Linked DNA regions of Homo sapiens. The protein of the gene in region 1 purifies or fractionates together with the protein of each later gene. This does not show direct contact. Each region holds a gene or a part of one and is shown on either strand. Other genes may lie near its edges.

The links. Proteins that work in one complex are often made in the same cells at the same time.
Region 2: the proteins of FAM111B (region 1) and SLBP purify together in Homo sapiens (co-immunoprecipitation; one large-scale study listed by IntAct). This does not show direct contact.

What each region holds. Positions count from the first base shown.
Region 1 is NC_000011.10:59,117,237-59,120,736, forward strand, and holds part of FAM111B (serine protease FAM111B), read left to right. Parts: intron 1-3,500. UniProt on the Homo sapiens protein: Serine protease.
Region 2 is NC_000004.12:1,705,820-1,709,319, reverse strand, and holds part of SLBP (histone RNA hairpin-binding protein), read left to right. Parts: intron 1-3,500. UniProt on the Homo sapiens protein: RNA-binding protein involved in the histone pre-mRNA processing.

The sequences.
Region 1 (3,500 bases):
AGAGACATGTTTGAGTTGGAATTTGCTATCCCTAGACCCTCCTTCCACTTCCACTCTTTTTTGGCATGGGGACTTTTCTGTACTGCCTCCTTAGGAACTCAGGTCCCATCAAAATGTGGAAAGAACAATTACATTTGTTTCGCACATTTGCTTTTTTGATAGTTTCTGAGGAGAGTAGGAGGAGGGCAGGTTTTTCAAGGCTCCTTTAGGGATGCAAGTATGATTACCCCAAAAGGTTCCACCCCCTTCACACTTATCAAGGGTCCCCATAAGAGCCTGGCCTTTCACATATATTATCTCACTTACCAAGCACAGATCAGAGATGTTAAACAAGTAGCCCAAGGTCACACAGTGGGTGGTACATGTAGCAGAGCCTGGATGTGTGCTTCCTCCCTCTGGACCCTACCACCTCCCTCAGAGGTTTCACAGGGCAAGCTGGGACTGGCACTGAATCCTCAGGCCACTTAGTACCCTGTCATGGCCCTCAAGGAATCCGCACCCCAGGCAAAGCCTTCTTCTGAGGTTTGGGAGTGAGAGAGTGACTCCCCAATCTTCCTCCTGTTACCAGTGGAGGGTCTTGACTAAAAGTTGTCCTGGTTCCTGGCATTTTAAAGAAAAACTTAGTAAAAACATACAAACAAAGCAGCAAAAGAAAGAAGCAACGAAAGCATAGATTTATTGAAGTGAAAGTACACTCCACAGAGTGGGAGCAGGCTTGAGCAAGGGGCTCAAGAGCACTGGTTGCAGAATTTTCTGGGATTTAAATACCCTCTAGAGGTTTCTCATTGGTTAATTTGTTTACACCCTATGTAAATGAAGTAGTGGCCCACAACCAGTTTCACTGGTTGCAGGAGAGGACCAACTAGAGGTACTTTCCATGTTTCATCTGCAATGCAGTGGAAAGCGGGAGTTGGGGGCATAATTTGCAAAAAGGAGGAGCCTCTGATCCTTTTGTTACTTGACTGTGGAGAGGTGGAATTTTCCTTTTGATTCAGTTCCAGGAAGTGAGTGTGAATCATCCTTAGGTTCCCTGCCTCCAGGTCCTGTTCTTCTGCCTCACTCCTTCAGACCTGGGGCATCCCTCTTCTTGCCAGCCTGCTCCTCCCCTTGGTTCCAAGGGGGCTCCTGAAGGCTGCATTTGATCACTCAGCAGAACCTGAAGTGGGGAAGGCAGCCAGGTCTTGTTTAATTTCCTACAATATATTTTAGGACAAAAGTCTTGCATATCTTGTCAGAGTTTTCTTCATAGATTACCTGTCATCTGTGAATTAAGATAATTTTACTAATTTCTTTCTGATCCAGATGCCTTTTATTTCTTTCTGTTTTTTATTGCACTGGCTAAAACTTCCATCACAATGGTGAAGAGATTCTGCCAGAGCAAACATTCTTGTGTTTTTTCTAGTCTTGGGAATTCATTCAATCCTACACGATTAAGTATGATGTTACCTGTAAGTTTTTCATAACTGTTCTTCATAAGATTGAAGAAGTTTCCTTTTATTCCTAGGTTGCTGATATTATTAGAAATAGATGTCAGGCTTACCAAATACTTTCTCTATGTCTGTTGAGATGATTCTGTGTATATATAGAAATTTTAATTATTCTAATTGGCTTATTACAGTGATATATTTTTCAAAATTAAACCAACCTTGCATTCCTGGTATTTACCTATTAGTTCTTGCATTTATGTTTATATTGGTCTGTAGTTTTCTTTTATTGTAATGTTTTGCCTGTATATTACAGAGCTAATATATCCCTATTGCTGAGGCAATGTTCTTTTTAGTATTGTACTCAATGCCTCACGAATTATGATGTTTTCCCTATGTCTGGTGGGAACAGCAACTATTCCCAGCCCTGTAAGATCTCCAGGGATTGTTCCTTCTAATATTTTTGGGTAGCTGATTTCCCTGACTTAGGTGATTTCCTCACATGCATGTGCGGATCACTAGTCATCTGAAGACTTAATGGGGACCCTCTCTGTACAGTCCTCTCATGCCCTTTGAAAGCTAAACCCATTGGCTTCCCAGAACTTGGTTCCTTTTCCTCAACTCAGCTGCTACTGAGCGTTGCCTGGATTATTTTCCCTGCACCATGGCCTAGAACCTCTTTTCAGGCAGTAAGCTGGGGCAGTCATAGAGTTTGCATCATTGTTTTTCCGTTTCTCAGGTGTCACTGTCCTTCTTTGACTAATGCTCAATGTCTTGGAAACCATTTTGTATATTTTGTCCATTTCTCCAGGATTTTCAGGCAGGAGTGTAAATTAGTTCTATGTTATTCCATGGTGGCCAAAGTAGAAGCTCAGGATGCTGCTTTTTTTTATTTTTCCAAAGGCTTTAGTTTTAATTAGTGGAAATAATGGGCTATAATGGGCTTACTTTATCTTGGCTGCCCCTATTACTATCAAATACATAAATATAAACATACCAGAAGTTTTCTTAGCCAGATTAAGAGCATCTTCAAAAATCTCACAGGGAATATCATGTTAAATAATGAATCATTATAAGTATTTCCCTTATAATGAGGGAGAATAGAGGAGTGCTCACTATTACTGCCTTTATTTAGCTGGTAAATAAAATTTAATTTAGCCAATGCAGTGTGATAAGAAAAAATAGTAAAATATAATATTTGAGAATTGAAAAGAAGGGAACAAAGCATATTCATGAAATATCCACAGATGGTATCATATCTATTTTTGAAACAAAAAATATTTATAGATAAAATATTAGAATGATTGTAAAGTAGCATATTGGCTAGGGTTAAGGTTGATATTTACAAAACAATGGATTTAGCTTAGTCAGCAATATCAGAAAATGTAATCATCAAAAATTATTTTATAATGCCTAGAAAAATATTATTTACCTGGAAATAAATGTAAAAATTATTTGTTAACCATTTATGGAGAAAATTATTTTGCTGAAGGCATGAAAATGAGACATAAATCAATGTCAAGATATACTAATGAGTAGAAAAATTCAAAATTAAGACAATATTTCATGAATATACAGAAAAATATACCATTGGAATAGAACAGAGAGAGTAGAGACAGACTCACAAATTTCAAGATGTGACAATATCTTTGTATTAGTTTGTGCTATGGTGTGAATCTTTGCGTCCCCCACAATTCATATGTTTAAATCCTAATCTCCAAGGTGATGGCATTAAGAGATGGGGCTTTGATGGGTGATTAGATAATGAGGGCTCTACATAATGTATTTTCTTAGAAAAGTCCAGACTATGTAGTCTCTTAGGGGTAATAAAGTACCACTGACTGTTTGGCTTAAACAACAGAAATGCATTGTCTCATGATTCTGGAGGTTCAAAGTACAAGGTCAAGATGTCAGCAGAGTTTGTGACCTGTTAGGGCTGTGAGGGAAAGATCTGTTCCAGGACTCTCTCCTTAGCTTGTAGTTGGCCATGTTTTTCCTATGGCTGTTTACCTCATCTTCCCTCTGTGTATGTCTATGTCTGTATTTCCACCTTTTCTAAGGATATCAAGGGTATTG
Region 2 (3,500 bases), on another chromosome or scaffold:
AACTTACTGTGCCATATTTTTATGGCCAGCTTATACAGGCACTCGATAAGCCTTTTTCCCAACACCCCATCTCTACTAAAAATACAAAATTAGTCGGGCATGGTGGCGCATGCCTGTAATCCCAGCTACTCGGGAGGTTGAGGCAGGAGAATCCCTTGAACCCAGGAGGTGGAGGTTGCGGTGAGCCGAGATCACGCCATTGCCTTCCAGCCTGGGCAATAAGAGTGAAACTGTCTCAAAAAAAAAAAAAAGACAAAAGACTTGGGTCTACGGGTGGGTACAGAAGAGGCCCTAGGTCCAGATATGAAGGGAAGGTAAACAAACCTTATTGAGATCAAGCTCTGAACTCTCCAGTGGTCTCATTTAGCTGAAGATAAAAATATTAAATCCTTACAGTGCTTTAGAAGTTATGGAAGTTTTTGGTGTCCTCATTCCTCAAACTATAGGAATGCTTCTGTCCTAGGGCCTTTGCACTTGGTATTTGCACATTGTGGATAATGCCTGGAGGCACCTGACAAATAGAGCCAGCTCGTTGATGGATAAGATCTAGAAGTACTCTTTGGAAGGTTGTTAGCTTAGTGTGTAAAATTAGGCTTTGTTGTCCCAAGATAGGGTAGATTATGAATATAACCTACTTAATCTAAGAAATGGACTTAAAGATACCAAAATATGGCATGTAGTATATGGTCATTCACATACACAGGCTTTAAATTATTCTTGTAGTTCAGGAATTTGTTATGTTGGCAGACCCAGACTTGAACCTCTTGATACACTAGTGAGGATGCTTGTATCCAATCCTGGACAAACCTCTATTGAGTCAATTTAATTTTCAGTTAATTACCTAATTTGATTTCATAACTTTCTACCATTTTTAGAATCTGGAAATTTACTTTTAGAAATCCAATTTAAGTTTATCTGAGTTGTGTGACTGTAAGGGAAGAAATGATAATTACATAAGAGGATTATTCATTTGTTACTGCAATTGCATTTTCAAAGCACAGCATTTGGTTTACAGCTAAAATAGGTTGCTTATTTGTTGTAATTAAAGTTAGTATCTAGTGTATTTTTTTGTGACGGGGCATAACTGTCAACCAGGCTGGAGTTCAGTGGTGTGATCTCACCTCACTGTAACCTCTGCCTTCCAAGTTCAAGCAGTTCTCCTGCTTCAGCCTCCAAGTAGCTGGGACTACAGGCATGCGCCACCACGCCCGCCTGATTTTTTTTTTTTTTTTTTCGTTTTTGAGATAGAGTCTTGCTCTGTCGCCCAGGCTGGAGTGCAGTGGCGCGATCTCAGCTCACTGCAACCTCTGCCTCCCGGGTTCAAGCAATTCTCCTGCCTCAGCCTCCTGAGTAGCTGAGATTACAGGTGCGCACCACCACGCCTGGCTAATTTTTGTATTTTTAGTAGAGACTAGATTTCACCATGTTTGTCAGGCTAGTCTCGAACTCCTGACTTAGTGATCAGCCTGCTTTAGCCTCCCAAAGTGCTGGGATTACAGGTGTGAGCCACTATGCCTATCCTAATTTTTGTATTTTTAGTAGAGGCAGGGTTTCATCATGTTGGCCAGGCTGGTCTCAAACTCCCGATCTTGTGATCCGCCCGCCTCAGCCTTCTAAAGTGCTGGGGTCACAGGCATGAGCCTGTGCACCCGGCCCAGTATCTAGTTTTAATGTCAGTAGTGATCAACAGAAAAATGGGGTAGAAAAATAAAAATGTGAGTTTATGTCTGATGTATAAATAAGATACATCAATTTGAACTGCCAGAATTTGGGGCTCGAAGCCTTAAGCTTTTGGATTTCCTGATTATTATTTTTTAAATTTTAATTATTATTTTTTTTAGATGGAATCTCGTTCTGTTGCCCAGGCTGGAGTGCAACCTCCACCTCCCAGGTTCAAGTGATTCTCCTGCCTTAGCCTCCCGAGTAGCTGGGATTATAGGCACCCACCACCACACCCAGCTGATTTTTGTATTTTTAGTAGAGACAGCGTTTCACCATGTTAGCCAGGCTGGTCTTGAACTCTTTTTTTTTTTTTTTTTTTTTTTTTTTTTTTTTTTTTTTTTTTTTTTTTTTTTTTTTTTTTTTTTTTTTTTTGAGACGGAGTCTCGCTCTGTCGCCCAGGCCGGACTGCGGACTGCAGTGGCGCAATCTCGGCTCACTGCAAGCTCCGCTTCCCGGGTTCACGCCATTCTCCTGCCTCAGCCTCCCCAGTAGCTGGGACTACAGGCGCCCGCCACCGCGCCCGGCTAATTTTTTGTATTTTTAGTAGAGACGGGGTTTCACCTTGTTAGCCAGGATGGTCTCGATCTCCTGACCTCATGATCCACCCGCCTCGGCCTCCCAAAGTGCTGGGATTACAGGCGTGAGCCACTGCGCCCGGCCTGGTCTTGAACTCTTGACCTCAGGTGATCTACCTACCTCGGCCTCCCAAAGTGCTGGGATTACAGGTGTGAGCCACCACGCCCGGACTATTATTTATTTATTCATTTATTTTTTGAGACGGGGTCTCTCTCCCCCAGGCTGGAGTGCAGTGCACGATCTCGGCTCACTGCAACTCCGCCTGGTGGATCACTGCAACTTCCACCTCCTGGGTCCAAGGGATTCTCCTGCCTCAGCCTCCCTAGTAGCTGGGATTACAGACACGCGCTGCCACGCCTAGCCAAGTTTTTGTATTTTGGTAGACGCTGGGTTTCACCATGTTGCCCTGGCTGGTCTGGAACTCCTGAGCCCAGGCAGTCTGCCAGCCTCAGCCTCCCGAGGTGCTAGGATTACAGGAGTGAGCCACTGCCTGGCCATAAATTTCCCAATATTGACTGAAGACTATCTTGAACTTGAGATGGAACTGAGCTCCTGGATGTGGTTTAACTCAAGCACAGGGGGTACTTTGCCAGTAGACGGAGTCCTGACACAGCAAGGACTCTGACATATACTCCTCCATACACATTGTAATCATAGTGTACATAACATTCTGAATTATTAATTACATGCGCCCGAAAGGTAAATGGATATGCTAGCTATTCTGTATTTTATTTATTTTCTGAGACGGAGTCTCTTGCTGAGGCTGGAGGAGCAGTGGTGCAATTTCGGCTCACTGCAACCTCCGTCTCTGGGGTTCAAGCAGTTCTCCTGCCTCAGCCTCCCTAGTAGCTGGGGCCTACTGGTGCGCACCACTGCACCTGGCTAATTTTTGTATTTTTATTAGAGATGGGGTTTCGCCATGTTAGCCAGGCTGGTCTCAAACTCCTTACCTTGGGTCATCCACCCGCCTCGGCGTCCCCAAAGTGCTGGGATTACAAGTATGAGCCACTGTCCTCTGCCACCATATATATTTTTTTGAGATATGGTCTTGCCCTGTTGCCCAGACTGGAGTGCAGTGCCAGGATCATGGCTCACACAGCCTTGACCTCCTGGGCTAGAGTGATCCTCCTGCCTGGGCCTCCTGTGTAGCTGGGACTACAGGCACGCCCCACCATGCTTGGGTATTTATTTATTTTGGAGAT